Homo sapiens: one gene and its partner. The protein of the gene in region 1 interacts with the protein of each later gene in a biochemical or structural test. Each region holds a gene or a part of one and is shown in the gene's direction. Other genes may lie near its edges.

Evidence for each region. Proteins that work in one complex are often made in the same cells at the same time.
Region 2: the proteins of SKAP1 (region 1) and FYB1 form a complex in vitro, tested with the Homo sapiens proteins (2 studies listed by BioGRID and IntAct, with this or other methods).

Annotation. Positions count from the first base shown.
Region 1 is NC_000017.11:48,426,694-48,435,076, reverse strand, and holds the start of SKAP1 (src kinase-associated phosphoprotein 1), read left to right. Parts: upstream 1-4,862; 5' UTR 4,863-4,956; coding exon 4,957-5,002; intron 5,003-5,144; exon of another isoform or gene 5,145-5,467; coding exon of another isoform or gene 5,468-5,491; intron 5,492-8,383. UniProt on the Homo sapiens protein: Positively regulates T-cell receptor signaling by enhancing the MAP kinase pathway. Required for optimal conjugation between T-cells and antigen-presenting cells by promoting the clustering of integrin ITGAL on the surface of T-cells.
Region 2 is NC_000005.10:39,195,199-39,203,079, reverse strand, and holds part of FYB1 (FYN-binding protein 1), read left to right. Parts: intron 1-92; coding exon of another isoform or gene 93-119; coding exon 120-1,254; intron 1,255-7,881. UniProt on the Homo sapiens protein: Acts as an adapter protein of the FYN and LCP2 signaling cascades in T-cells. May play a role in linking T-cell signaling to remodeling of the actin cytoskeleton. Modulates the expression of IL2. Involved in platelet activation.

The DNA of each region.
Region 1 (8,383 bases):
TGGGCTCAAACAATCCTCCTGCCTAAGCCTCAAGAGTAGCTGGGACTACAGGCTTATGCCACCATGCCCAGCTAATTTTTGAAATTTTTGAATTTTTTGTAGAGACAGGGGTCTCACTATGTTGCCGAGGCTGGTCTCCAACTCCCTGCCTCAAGTGATCCCCCTGCCTCAAGTGATCCCCCTGCCTCGGCCTCCCAAAGTGCTGGGAATGAAACATTACTATTTAGATGGAGGAGGGCCAACAGTGATGACTTCGTAGAGTGGCTCAGTGATCCCTAGGCTGTAACTATCTATCTTAGGTATTTTTCAGTTCTACAAGAGCTTTGTACCTGATTCTAATGCACAGCTCCTGGTAAGCTGGGGGACCCTGGGTATAGTGCTGGGTCTGTTCCTTATCTTGAATTTGCTCCCTTTGAAGATTCTTTTGAGTTTTTATATAGTCCCTCATACTGTTCCAAGCCTGTACCTCACTGAGAACCTGCTTATGGAATTGTTTCCTGATGTGATATGAGAAGCTGCTTATTTTGTTGTATGTATTAAGGCAGAGAATCTAGGAGTGTGAGCTGGAAGGGGAGACCATTGGAAGTGTATTTGTGTGAGTGTGTGTATAACAGGACCCTCCTAAGTTGAAGAGTTAGCTAATTGGTAAGAACAAGGCTTCTGGCAAGCCGTGGAAACTTCATTTTTAGGCCACTGAAGTAACGTGCCCAAGTTAGCATCTTATGTCCATCTCCTCTGCCTTCAAGGTGGCATGATGCTTGGTTTCTGGAGCCTTGCAAAACATACAGTGAGCCTGGTTCTTGGCACCGACAGGATGCATCATCTCTCCTTCCACATCTCTTAATGAAGTGTGCAGCTCTTGGCCTCATTAGGCCCCAGCATTGTCAATAAAAGAGTCAATAAACCCGGTTGATGGGGTTGGGACCGAGAGGCTGAGAGGCAGTGGCTGCACATCCATAGGGCAGACGTCAGCTCCGCCACATGTCATGACCCAGCATTCAGGGATCAATAACCAGCTCAGAATAAAGCCTCAGAGCCTGCCCTCTGCAGTTTCCTCTCCAGACCCATTTCAGCCAGGGCAGAGCGGTGCCAGCCAGCTCCTGCTTTGCTTGCAGTTGTGTTCCCACTGCATGCCATTCTGGGTGCCAGATGCTTTTGTTTCTTCCTGATTGGTCCCTCTGGACATCCCATAGATGCCTATTTAGCGAGTGCCCACCTGGCATGAGAACATGTAGACAGCATTCCCAAGAAGCTCAGAGGCCAATATGGGCCCTATTTTCTGTGTCTTCTGTCTGCTGACAGTGCGTGAAGGGTCCCGGTGGACAAGGCGGTGTGTTTTCTGCATGTTGTGCTGCTGGACTCCATTCCTGGCTGTTCTACATCTCTTTAGATCCCCTTATCTTATCTAATTACAAGGAATTCCAGATTAATTTCATGGCCTCTGCTCCAAAGGACCTCTTATCTGTGAGGGCCTTGTATTTTAACCTTGTCATTCTTTTGTTGTTTGTCTTTAAGGGGCAGGCAGCTAAGAAGAGGATGCTAAGATCTTGCTGGAATTGGGTCTGGGGGGGACGGGAAGAAAAGGGAGGCAGACAGACCTGAGATTTGTGTATTCTGTTCTGTCCTCCTGCCTGTGTGCAGAGACAGCTGGCTGCTTTCTTCCATGACAGCCACATAGTACCCAGCCACACAGAACAGGACCCAGGCAGGGACTCAGCTACTGCCAACCTCTCCAGATTGCTTTGATATTTCTGACAGAACAGTAAAGGACTCGTGACTATCACGTTTTGCCTTGCCTCTCTTCACCTCCTCTAAGACTCCTCCATGTGGTTTCCATGGCTACCCCCAATCAGATTTGGCTTCCTGCGAAATTGGATTTCAAAAAAGGACAAGGCTTCAAAGGAATTTGTCCATTTAACAGAATGTCATTAGGAGTGGGGCTGACTGCTGAAACAGGGTCCTCAGATGATTAAGGAAGGGCTGCGTTCATGTGTGGAGGCAGATTTCTGTCTGCAATGAGGAACCTTGATGCAACATGACAATACCGTATTGGAATCTGCCAGTCACTCACTACATACTACCCGACTGTGCACCTCCCTCTACCCCTGTCTCTCTAAAACCCAGAGATTCTTGTAAGGAAGGATGCATATAGAATACGTACACTGTGAGTTTTTGGTGTAAGTAAGCTATGACAGGCAGTGAAGCCTGCAAAGAAGTGCAATTACCTGGGTTTACTGCTCTTTATCAAACAATTCATTAGCTGGTAGCTTATATTAGTATGTGACACCATATCCTTGAAGAAGAGGGGGAGGTTATCAAATTTTCTTCTGTTGCCAAGAAGGAAAGCAAGGCAAAGTTTAGGTTGACATATGGGGAGACTTTGCTGCCCTTGCTGTATTTTTTGTGTAACAGTTTAGATTTACCAAAAAAAAATTGAGATGATAGCACAGACAGTTCCCATGTATCTTTCCTTGCTTTTTAGTATGCCTCATAAGTACTTCAAAATGATTCTAGAGCAGCTACAATTTTATAGGTGAAGTGGTGAAGTTGGTAAAAATGCCATGGGGGTACCTGGTACTTGATCCCAAGCCTGAAAGGGGTAGTCTGCCCATTGCTATACTTTCTTTCTTTCTTTCTTTCTTTTTTTTGAGATGGAGTCTTGCCCTGTCACCCAGGCTAGAGTGCAATGGCCTGATCTCGGCTCACTGCAACCTCCGCCCCCCGGGTTCATGTGATTCTCCTGCCTCAGCCACCCGAGTAGCTGGGATTACAGGCGTGCACCACCATGCCCAGCTAATTTTTGTATTATTAGTAGAGACGGGGTTTCACTATATTGGTCAGGCTGACCTCAAACTCCTGACCTCGTGATCCGCCTGCCTTGGCCTCCCAAAGTGCTGGGATTATAGGCGTGAGCCACTGTGCCCAGCCACCCATTACTATACTTTCTCAGGGCAGGAAGGAGGATGAGCAGGAGCCAGATACCCCAGAGAGGCTCATGCCAGCCTCTGTCCCCTCACCCCAATTTACTGCAGCTTGTAGGTGGGTCATGTGACACTGAAACCAATGCACCACTGCTTTTCAGATGGCAGGATGCACTGTACTCCTTAAAGGATCACACCCTCATCTTTGAGGCTGTATCTCTGGATGGGAAACAGTACAAGGAGGCAGGCACTTTTATCACACTCATCCTTCTCGATGGTTTCTTCTTACTGCTCTTGCCCCGTCTGCTAGATTGAGTCCATCATTATTCCCCTTATGGCTGTTGTAAAAACCATTTTACCCACTTCCCCCTGTGTCTTTTCCCACCACTCCTAATCTTTTCTACATATTCTGTAGGTTGAGTCTGAGAATAGAAATGCCATTTTTTACAAAGAAGGAAAAAGGCAGAGGTGGAGATGTGTGAGGCCACATACCACCCCGGAGCTCTGGTTAGGTCATTCCCAATCTCAAAAATTGTCAATGGCTCCCCAGTGCCCTCTCAATTAAGTTCAACATTCCTATTCTGACTTTCAAGTCCCTTCACAGTAGAGCTGCAGTTTATCTTGACAACCATAGTCTTTCTACAACATCCAGTAAAAGAGGGCTACTAACTATTCCTCAAGCTGGTGAGGGCTCTTCCATCTTTCTTTACTCTGGTCCTTCCACCTGGAAAGTCCTCTGCCCCTTCAAAGTCTGGTGTGTTTTTCAGAGCCCATCTCAAACACCACATGCACCTTTAAACACTCACATGCACACTGGCACTTCTTTTTATTTTCTTTCTTTTTTAAGAGACAGGGTCTTGCTCTGTTGCCCAGGCTGGGGTACACTGGGGTGATCATAGTTGGCTGTAACCTCAGATTCCTGGGCTCAAGTGATCCTCCTGCTTCAGCCTCCCAAAGTGCTGTGATTACAGGTGTGAGCCACAATGCCTGGCCTCTTCCCTCCTTTTCTGGTATTCAGCTCCCTTCTTTTATCAACCATAGCACTTTATACTTTTTTCATGGCAGTTGACCTATTGTACTTAAAAAACCTCTTTATTTTGAGAATTATAGATTCACAGAGAGTTTCAGAAATAATAGAGGAACTCTGTCTACCTTTACCCAGTTTCCCCCAAGGGTAACATCTGGCACTATTACAGTACCATGTCACAACCAGGACACTGACACCAACTGTCCCTTGAATGAGACCGTGTGATTTTGTCCTTCACTTTCCTCCCTTCCGCAGCTCCTGGAGGGAAAGGGCTCTGTTCTCCTCTCCCTCAGCTTTCTCCCTGTGTTACCCCTTCCTTTCCTCAGGGCCTTTCCATCCTGAGGGAGAACAGCACAGTTTGGTTTCCTGTGTCCCTTGCTGCCACGCTGCCGCGATTCTCCCAAATGTTGGTGTCCTTATATTGCTTATTGGGAATTAATCATTTCCTTTCAACATTGTGGCTTCCCAAAGAGCGAAGTTTTGCCCTCTTTTCTGGGGATGGAGATGTGAACTGGACCGGCAATTGAGGGGTGCTATGCTTGACGGGGATCTCTTCCTTGGATTCTGCCTCCCTGCACCCTACTTCAGGCACCCCGTGGTCTTTCAAATCTGCCACCGTGAGGTCAACTGTTCGGTGCTTAGGATGGAGTGTCCAAAGCCGTGGGTCCTTTGAGCCTTGTGAAGTCTTTTGTTTTGGTGGGTGCTGGAGGGGCGCACCTTTGGCCTCGCACGGTGCGGTGCTTCCGGCACCCCCAATCCTTCTACCGTGGGGCTCCGGCGTGAGCGCCACGTGCACCCACGCCCCGCGCCCCGTTCCGGTCCCCGCCTGCCGCCCGCGCCACTTCCTGACGCGCCCGGGGACCCACGGCCCCGCCCCGCGGCCGGGCTGGGCGGGCGGCGACCGCGGCTGAGGTACAGGTGCCTCGCGGTGCAGCCGGGTCGCCTTCCAGCCCGTCCGCCTCCCGACCAGGGCCCGCGCCCCGTCCCGCCTCTCTCCCGCCCAGCCAAATGCAGGCCGCCGCCCTCCCTGAGGAGATCCGTTGGCTCCTGGAAGGTAACGCCCTGGCGCAGGCCCCCTCCAGTGCTGAGCCGAAGGCCGAAAGGGGACACCAGGCCTCCCACGGCCAGGCTTTCTTTACGGCTTCGTCACTCACCTCCTTCTAGAACCTTAAGGCTTCTAGAGCCCTCAACTCCCTAGAGCCAGCTTTCCATCCTCTCACCTCAGGGCCCCTTTCACTCCCTGGAGTCCCACATCTTCTTTTGCCTTGAGGCACCTCCACGCCTCCACTTCACCTCCCCGGCTTCTAAAGTCCTCAGGCCAGGTTCTTGGTCCCCCATGCCACCTTGCCTGGTCTCCGACCTGTCCCTTTCTCCAAAGGACTGCCCTACATCTGTAGGGTTTCCCGTCCCCCTCCTTCCCCAGCCACGACTTCCTCACCTCTCACAGAAGACCCCAAACCTTCCTGCTTAGAGGTCCCCGAGGCTCTCCAGGGGGCTGCGAGGGGCTCATGGGATCCCCATGGGCCAAGGCCAGGTGGTTGACGTGAGTTTTTGTCAGTGCGAAAACCCCAGCCCTCCCTTTATCACCCTGCAGACGTCTAGGGGTCTCACCCACCCCAAGGCAGGCTCATTCTCAGTATGGGATTTCCTCCTTTTCTAGAAGTGCCCCCATTGTGGTGTGTTCACCTTCCAACTCCCATTGTGGTGTGTTCACCTTCCAACTACAGTGTCTAAGCGGTGGTTTAAAGAGTTCCGGCCATCCCCGTCAACACTCAACACACACTGCCAACACTCCAAAGAGATGTCACAAAGAGACGTTGCTAACGGGCAGTTTCATCTGCTGGGTTTCGTGGTGGAAGTCACTTTTACTTGCTTTCCTGTAACTAACCTTCCAGGGAGGACAGAGGCCTGGAATCTGCAGTCGCATAAGGCTCCCAGGAGGAAACTATTCAGAATTAAGCCTTTTGGCATCTAAGTTGACATAGTTGACACATATTTAACAGACGGCCTGCTTTGGGCAGGTCATATTTTTGGCAAGCAGTATTTTTTTTCAGTTTCTCTCAATTTAATTGGTTTTATATCTCCATTACCTTGTTATCTCGGTATAAATGCCTCCTAATCAAATATTTGGCAAGTCCTTTTGGTCTCTGTCTGTAGCACTATTTCCATTCTGGATTGCTTCTATGTAAAAGCTGTCAGCTAGATATTTCTTTTGAGGTGAGGTTTCCAAAATCCGTTTTACTTACGATCAGAATAAATCTAAATTTTGGGGGTAGAAAACTATTTGCAGGGTAAAAGAGAATTATCTGGGTGTCTAAGAAGAAACAATCCAGCCTTTCCCTCTGTTGTTGGTTTAATATTAGGCTTGTGAAGGAAGGCTGTAATTGTCTTTGGTTTCTAGGAAAGAAGGGACTGTGGCAAAAAGTTTAACTCTGCCCTTGCATTGAAATATATAAACTGATTCTTTTTATTGGTATCTGTCATTTGATGAGAGGAAACCTATTTTATAAGCTTATTAAACTATACTTCAGTTTTGTGTCTAGGCTTGGTAGAAAATTCCTTTTTATTTTCAGAGGCTTGCAATGAAATCCATTCCTTCAGCATTTTTGATGTGCAGTTCTTCATTGTTCAAAACTGACACTTTGGTAAACAACTCATTTCTGCACCTGCCACCTTCCTTTAGCTTAGATTATTTTCTTGTTAGCTGACTGTTTTTAATTGAAGTCTTCAGATCTCCTTCTAAAGCAGAACCTTTGTTTGCTGACAAGTAGAGCGGGGTATGAATGGAGATTAATTGCATGTCGCATACTTCTGTATCAAGCTTGCTGTATCTTAACAATCTCTGTTGGTGCTCAGGTCTTTAAAATATATGGAGGAGTCTGAAACCAAATTATAAGGAGCTTCGTTGGTTAATGTATTTCTTTAAGGCTTTTTTTTTTAAGTTTGCAATTAGAACTTGAATCTGAAGTAGAGAAAAAAATGTAAAGTGTGATTCATCCAGTAATTCTATTGAAAAATGTTTGAAGATATGTTTTTTAAAGGTTCCTGTAATAATAATAGCAATATATTGGTTACAAGTTTTATTTCTTTTGGAACACAGTCGCTGGTGTAGACCAGGAGGATTATTCATTGTGTTACAAATAATCTGTCCATATTAGAAACCCAAAATGGCCATCAATTTGTTGTTTGTTGCTATTTGTCTCCCCCACCACACACTTTTTAAGGTTAACTGTTGACAATTAGAAAAAATGGAGGTCCTGATCTCTATATAGTCACTCTGTGGGAGGGAGTCACAGGATGTGAGGGCTGCAACTCTAGTGCTGCCACATGGCTGTGGGGGTGGGGTTTCCACAATGAATTACTACTTTCATAAACCAAGGCATAAGCATTTGCACAGTGATTTAACACTGGACATCACAGCCATAACTTAAGCATTTATTTATTTATAACTACACAAGCATAAATGACAGGGGCATTTTTTGACATAATGTGTGTGCTTTTAAGAATAAAATATGTAAAGCATTGTGAAAGGTAGATAACAAAATTTTGCATAATGAAGAGAACAGAAATTCCCAAGGCCTAAAATTAATTTTGTTTAAATATAAAATTTGAGACACTTGGAAATGTTTCACTCGACCTAGAAACCTCACTTCTAAAAATCTGTCACTGAAGTGAAAGGTCATGAAGTAGTATATGCACGAAGATCTATGCTAAATGTTAATAAGTTGGGAGACTCAGGGTGATGGTTGAATGAATTATGGGACATTTGTCTCATGGAATACTTCACAGCCACTAAAAGAGTATTCTGTGGATCTATATATAGGCTTGGAAAGTGTCCATGGCATATTTTTAAGACTAAAAGGCAAAATGCATGATAGTACATGTAATATCCCATTTTTGCTTGAAAACCAAAAGACAAAACAAGAAAAGCCACATATGTTATAAATATTTGTGTAAGCCTAGGAATAAGTAAAAAAGAATATATACCAGACTGTTAACATTGGCTTCCTTGAGAGAAGACTGAGAGTTTGGAGGAGGGGAGGTTATTAATTTTTATTTCATACATCTTTGTGTTGTTTGAATTGTGACAATGACCATGCATTACTTCTGTAAACAGGAAAAAATAAACAGTAAGGGTATTTAAAAGAAAAAGGAACAAAAGACAAATAGAAACTCAGAGAGGTCAGAGTGCTAACGGACCATTTACTATGCTTGTGATCATGTTTTTCTCTTTTTAGCCCTGAGGGGTATGGAAGGTGGAGAAATTAAAAAAAAAAAACACGCTATCTTGGATTTTTGGCAAATATCAAAACAGTGTGAGGTTTCTAGAGTAACTCAGGAAATAGCTTCTTTAGATAGACTCTGTCAAGCTCTCATATAGAAATAGTAACTAGTCCCCTATCAACAAATAAATACCTCATAGATAAGTAAAATG
Region 2 (7,881 bases), on another chromosome or scaffold:
CTCAAACCAGGAAGCTCTGTAAGGTATAGTATTTTAAACTGTGCAAGTAAGACTTTTGTCTCTCAGCTATTTTTTGTTCCCTATGTTTGTAGGATGGAAAGGCAGATGTAAAGTCCCTCATGGCGAAATATAACACGGGGGGCAACCCGACAGAGGATGTCTCAGTCAATAGCCGACCCTTCAGAGTCACAGGGCCAAACTCATCTTCAGGAATACAAGCAAGAAAGAACTTATTCAACAACCAAGGAAATGCCAGCCCTCCTGCAGGACCCAGCAATGTACCTAAGTTTGGGTCCCCAAAGCCACCTGTGGCAGTCAAACCTTCTTCTGAGGAAAAGCCTGACAAGGAACCCAAGCCCCCGTTTCTAAAGCCCACTGGAGCAGGCCAAAGATTCGGAACACCAGCCAGCTTGACCACCAGAGACCCCGAGGCGAAAGTGGGATTTCTGAAACCTGTAGGCCCCAAGCCCATCAACTTGCCCAAAGAAGATTCCAAACCTACATTTCCCTGGCCTCCTGGAAACAAGCCATCTCTTCACAGTGTAAACCAAGACCATGACTTAAAGCCACTAGGCCCGAAATCTGGGCCTACTCCTCCAACCTCAGAAAATGAACAGAAGCAAGCGTTTCCCAAATTGACTGGGGTTAAAGGGAAATTTATGTCAGCATCACAAGATCTTGAACCCAAGCCCCTCTTCCCCAAACCCGCCTTTGGCCAGAAGCCGCCCCTAAGTACCGAGAACTCCCATGAAGACGAAAGCCCCATGAAGAATGTGTCTTCATCAAAAGGGTCCCCAGCTCCCCTGGGAGTCAGGTCCAAAAGCGGCCCTTTAAAACCAGCAAGGGAAGACTCAGAAAATAAAGACCATGCAGGGGAGATTTCAAGTTTGCCCTTTCCTGGAGTGGTTTTGAAACCTGCTGCGAGCAGGGGAGGCCCAGGTCTCTCCAAAAATGGTGAAGAAAAAAAGGAAGATAGGAAGATAGATGCTGCTAAGAACACCTTCCAGAGCAAAATAAATCAGGAAGAGTTGGCCTCAGGGACTCCTCCTGCCAGGTTCCCTAAGGCCCCTTCTAAGCTGACAGTGGGGGGGCCATGGGGCCAAAGTCAGGAAAAGGAAAAGGGAGACAAGAATTCAGCCACCCCGAAACAGAAGCCATTGCCTCCCTTGTTTACCTTGGGTCCACCTCCACCAAAACCCAACAGACCACCAAATGTTGACCTGACGAAATTCCACAAAACCTCTTCTGGAAACAGTGAGTTCTTTTCTCGTTTGCTATTCAGTATGGTTTACTCCAAGGCAGAGAATGTTTTAGCTTCTGGGGAAAGTTTTGTAACAAGGAATGATTCTCTATATCTGGTACTCATATGTGTATAATGAATTTTCTTTGTCTTGTTTTTTTCTTTCATGTGGGAGGTCTGGGAAAGTAGGAAGTCTTCATTCTGTGAGAAAATGCCTTGGTCAGCTGGGGTTTTGTTGGGGGAAGGGAGAGGGAATGCATCCACTTCATTGATACGTGGTTTTGCTTAATGATAACCATTGTATTTACTTCCTTTGTTGGGTTTCATTTCTGTTGAATGAGACTGAGGTATGTTACCCCTATCAACACAGAGGAGTTAGACAGAAAATGAGCTATCCTGTAGGTCAGCAGTTCCCAAAGGGAACAATTTTGACCCCCAGGGGACATTTGGCAATGTATGGAGGCATTTTTGATTGCCACAACTGGAGGGTGCTACTGGCCTCTAGTGAGTAGAAGCTAGGGATGCTATTGAACATCCTACAATGGCCAGGACAGTCCCACAACAAAGAATTATTCAGGCCATAATGTCAATAGTACAGAGATGACAAGCCCTCCTTTAAGTGACTGCAAATATCCACACAATTCATCATGTTTCCTAAGCCCAGTATTCAAATGAGAAAGGAGCAGTACTCATGAAATGGTACTTTGTGTTTCACATTTTAGCTATTTTCCATTTCTCAGTATAAAGTTTTCTGAACTTTTATGATTCATAAAGTAATATATAGTTAGGAAAATGAGCCAGACAAAGGAGTACTTTACTCTCCTTTCGGGTAAATAGTTTAAATTTCTACCAGAGATATCACTGCAATTCTCTTGGATGTGGTACTGAGTGACTGCATGTAAGAAGCTCACACATGCCTGAGATGATTAATATTTTAGGTAAATGATGTGCAACTGTTGTTTATTGTGAGGGGGAAACAAGATGCCTACAGGTGACCACACTACTTGTAGTCGCATCTTTCTCCTTACCGAAGTATGGTCTAGTTAAAGCAATTCTAAGCCTAAAGGTTGTTTTTCGTTTTTGCACTGTAGAAACATCTTGCGATATGTTATCTTCCTGAGTTCAGTATTCTCCTTGTTCGTAAACAGCTTAGTGATCAAGTCCTCTGCTAATTCAAACACACAGAAAGCAAGTTTGGAATGATCCCATGACCATCTGTCTTCCAGAAAGGTTCATCCTTGTTTCACATTGCATCTCCTCCTCATCTGTCATCTTGTTTCATTACCAGGTCATAATTCAGAACTATTATTTTTGTGAGACTTTCTAAAAGGTCCCTTATTTCTCTTATTTCTTCACCTCGGATAAAAAATTTAGTATTATGACCTCCATTTTATGGCTGTGACTTCACACCAGGGAAGGAGTTCTGATGTTAGGCAGAAATCCCTGGGAACTTTCTTCCATCTTTGTTTCACTCCCGCTCCAGTGTGGGTGGTGGCAGAGCATGGTGGTAACACATGTTGCCCGGTGTCACGCTTTTCAGTGAGTTGCCACAAATGCTAACCAAGTCCTCTTTCTGACTCTGAAGGCCTGACAAGGTCTGATTTTTAGTGAAGTAAAGCTACAAGGGACCCAGGCAGAACTGCAGAGCAGACGGAGTTTATCCTTGTTCTCCTTCTCCTCTCCTTTGCAACCCTCCCCTGCTCCTGAATGCTTCCTCACTGTCAGTAGCCCATGCCACAGTTCACATTTTAAATCCTGTCATCAGTGTAACCCCCTCAACATCTGATGCCTTGAGATGTATTATGCTCCAAAATGTATCCTGTTCTCTATTCATTCACCTCTTCCACAAATCAAAACTCAATCCCTCTTAATCTAGATTGACCTCATTTGATATCTGGATTAAGCAATCTGATTCATAACTTTAAACTCTGAATAATACCCCTTTAAAGCATTCACCTTTTTAAAAAGCATTTGAATTCTTTTATCTTTTAAGTAGAAATTACATTCTGACTGAAAAAGCAGTAAGTGTAAAATGGTGTACAGTGAAGCTACCTTTAACCCTTGTCTGCCACTTTCTGGGTCTTTCCAGCCCCTACCCCATAGAAACCACTCTTCTTAATTTCTTATATGTCCATCTGAAGTTTCTTTATGTTCACAGAAGCAAATATGAACATAAATACTACCCCCCACCCCGGCTTTTTACTCATGAAGTAGAATATTATGTGCAATGCTCTGATCCTTGTATTTTTAAAATAAATAAATCCTGTATATCTTTCCACATTTTAATAAAGAGTAACTGATTATTCTCTAGAGTTGCATAATACTTCAGTAAATGGGTGACAAGCTTAATCAATTTAACAATTTGTGTTGTTTCCAAAAGCGTTCTTTTGCAACAATACTGCAGAAAATAAACTCGTGTATGTGTCATAAAGTAAGCATTTATTTTCTGAACACAAAGTTTTTTAAGTCAGGTCTGCTGACTCTTGATCCTGCCACTGCTATTTTTCTTAAACAATGCTAGAAATACTAAGTAATTTACCATTTCATTTAGGAAGGTTAAAATATATCAGAATTAGAAAGTATATGTTCATTTTATATAACTGGATAAGCAATATAAAGAAAAGAATTAAATTTCTGTTGTAGCAAAATTTTTTAAAATTCTGAAATTCTATTTTTTATAATTCTGGAGTATGTAAGTAGAAAATAAATAATTATTAAATAATTAAATAATAATATACATATACGTATACATAAACATGTGGTATATTGTACGTACAGTCTTTAGATGGGAAAATTCTTTATTAAGTGTAATTATCGCCCCCATTTCACAAATGAGTGTTGAGATGTGACATAACCAAATCATATATCTGAGGCTAAAATCCAAGTCTTCAGATTGCAAGTTTAATACTTTCTCCATGTACCATCGTGCCCCTGTATGTATGTTTGCATGTTTATGTTTAAAGCATAAGTGTATTATTTATTTATATAGAATATATATGCAGATATTCCTTGACTTGTGATCGGGTTACATCCTTATAAACATTCTTAAGTTGGAAATATTATAAACTGAAAACACGTTTAATATACCTAACTACCAAATGTCATAGCTTAGCCTAGCCCACCTTAAACATGCTCTGAACACTTACATTAGCCTACAATTGGGCAAAATCATCTCACACAAAGCCTATTTTATAATAAAGTGTTGACTATCTCATGTAATTTATTGAATACTGTACCATGGTTTCTACTGAATGCATATTGCTTTTGTACCATCATAAAGTCAAGTAATCATTAATTTGAACTGTCATAAATAGGGCACCATCTGTGTATGTATACATATTATTACTAATATGTACATGGGATTTTAACTTTTTTCAAAGGACTTTCAAAATGTTTATGTCTTTTATTACTTATAATGTCCCATGAATTAGATACAGCAGTTTAATGAACCCATTTTAAACCAATGTGCAGAGTTGCCAGGTTATCTATTAGTAATGTTATTAATGGTACAGAGCCTAGCATGAGAGTTGTTTGCCATATAATGTAGACTTCAAAGTCAGTGGACCTGGGGTTTAAGCATGACTAATGTACTAGCTATGTGACCTTCGCTTTACCTCTTTCCGTGTATGTCTTTCTTCATTTGAAAAAACGAGTATAATACCACCTACTTCGCCAGCACATTATAATCACTACATGAGATTCGTTGTAAGTGCTTAATACAGAATTTGACATATAATAGTATCAAAATAAGTGAGCATTGTCTATAATTTTATTACTTTTATTAGCATTAAAATTTTATCACCAGCCCCATGATATTCTGATCATCTTATAGTATAAATCATTTTATATTATACTATATTATTCTAGGAATCATGAAACTGCATTTTACTTACTTCTGTTTGTAATATAGAAATGTATTTGTGATTTATGATGCCAGAGTCAAACAATGATTGTTGGAAGAGAGGTTTCCCACCAGAAGTCCATGAAATTTCTGCGCTCAGATGCCTCCTTCCCTACAGCAAAGGCTGGTAGAGAGCAGTAGGCGGCACCCAAGTGGCACTAGGTCACAAGTGCCCCCAGATTTTGCCATCTCCTACTGGCTGAAGCCAAGCGAAGGCATCTGACTCAGCCAAGCAGAGGTGGAGAGGCTGCAAAGCCAGTATAGATGGCTGTTATCCCAAGACACTGGTATTATCAAAGGCAGTTTTCGAAGGTCATTGTTTCCAGAGTGCATTTGCTTTCCCCATTACCTGTCAACCTGGAAGAAATAAATAAATGTGGCCAATGGATTTGCTCTGGATTATGATTGGCCACAGCTGCTTAGATTGGCAACTTCCAGGGAAAATGCTTCTTAGTGTGCTGCTACAGACCCTAAAATTTTTTGAGATTGGAGTTTTTACATGAACTCCAACAAAAAATGCCCTAAACACACCTGACTAGGCATGAATTTTCATATAACAGGGCTTCCAGATAAATTATTTGCTGCATGGTATAATTAGAAAATTATTTATTTGCTTGTAATAAAATGGGAAAGAAGAGAGATTCTATGCTTTAGAAAAAATGAGATTCTATTACTAAATATTTATTCACTAAGATTTAATAGTTATTGACGGGAGCAAAATGAAATGCCTTGCTCAGTGAATGCAGAGACTCCAAAAAGACTATTTTTTCTTGTTAGAAGTAATTATACTAGTGTTCAAATTAACAAACATTCATCTAATAACTCTATATGCCTTTTAAACTAATACTGTTTTCATAGCCTTCTACCTCATTTCTTCCTTTCCAGGTTCTCATCCAATTCTTTAAACCTCTTCCCCAGATATACCCTCCATCTCATCATCTTTGCCCAATGTATTAACTGTTAAAAATATTCATCATTTATTGAGGACTTGCTATATACCACATACACATTATGCCGTTTATTCCTCTCAAGCCATGAATAGGAATTCTATGAGTAAACTAAAGCTCAGAGAGGTTAGGTAACTTGCCCAAAGGCATAACATGACTAAACAAGGCTGGGGTCAATCTCATGTCTTTCTGATTCCGCAGACTGTGTTCCCACCCGCATTCCACTTCCTCGTGCTGGGCTGCCTCTCTTCAAACACAGAATATCACAAGACAATGAATCAAGCATAAATGAAACTCCCAAAATCCTCATTCCTCTCCCTTTCTGTGGCCTTTGGTTGAAACATGCCTTTTGTTTGTTGTCTGTTTTGTAAATACCACTATAAGCTCCATGAAGACAGAAGCCAGTCTGCTTGCCATTCTCTCATTTGGAGTACAAAAGTAATATAAATTTTTGTTAGCTTCTCAAGTTTATTCTTTCACAGAATTCTATTTAACCAGACCGGGTGCGGTGGCTCATGCCTGTAATCCCAGCACTTTGGGAGGCCGAGGCGGGCTGAACACCTGAGATCAGGAGTTCAAGACCAGCCTGGCCAACATGGCGAAACCCCAAAAATACAAAAATTAGCCAGGCATAGTGGTGCGCACCTCCCAGCTACTCAGGAGGCTGGGGCAGGAGAATCATTTGAACCCAGGAGGTGGAGGTTGCAGTGAGCCGAGATTGCACCACTGCACTCCAGCCTGGGTGACAAAGCGAACCCTATCTCAAAAAAAAAAAAAAAAAAAGAAAGAATTATATTTAACTAGAATTTATTTACTCCCAGATTTTGTTCAGTATTAGATTTTAATACTCTATAGCTTAGCAATTGTTTTAACACAATAGATAACCCCTGCCAGTAGACTTGTACTCAACTGAATGGAGCTTGGACACAAAATAAATGTTATAAGAGAGGGTCTATCTTGCAGATCTATTGAGCTCCCTTCCTTGTAAACTGTAAGCTTGACTCTAACATGTTGCTTTCTGATCATGAAGCTAAATTTTTTTTTCCTAAGAACAATTTAAGGTTACAAAAGACTAAACGTTTTTTTTAAAAAAACCCAAAATATCAAAATATTCTCTGAACTAACCTTTCCTTTGCTTCCTTTTGGGTCCTGAGCCAGTTCTGAAAGGGCTTCTTCCCATGTGTCAACACAATGCCTCACCAAAGTTTGGGTTCATAAGAATCCCTGGCCTGACTATTGGTTTGCATGTATGATTTAGTAAAAACCTGCTGGGAAATATTCAGTTTGACCCTTTTTTCTAGTCTTGTTCTTAATACTGCTGAGAGACCAAGACTGATTTTTTCCATATGTTAGCTATAGGAATGATCAGTTAAGCACCTTGACAGCAACAGGTGTAAGGCGAGGGCCCCAGAGGGCATTAACAAAAGACTGATGGCCCCCTCCTCATCTGTGTATGTATCATTTAACTAATCCAGCCTACAACAACTTGAAACCAAAAGGTGCCTGGGCTATTTTCACCAGCAAGTAACTTGTTTCCAGGAGTGGGTAAGATTTTCCTTCACAGGCCCCAAAGCTATCACCTTTCTTTTTCCCCCCATTCTCCTTTTATGTGTACTCTCTTAACATGACCTTATTAGATATTTACATATTGAAAACTGTTTTATATCAGCATGTGGCAGTATTTTCCAAATTGTTGCTCCTAGCCACCACAGGGAAAAAGGATTCTATGTTCACATTTTAGAAACGTAGCGGTAAGTGCTATTCTTTAAAGCAAGATTTCTCCAAGTATTAAT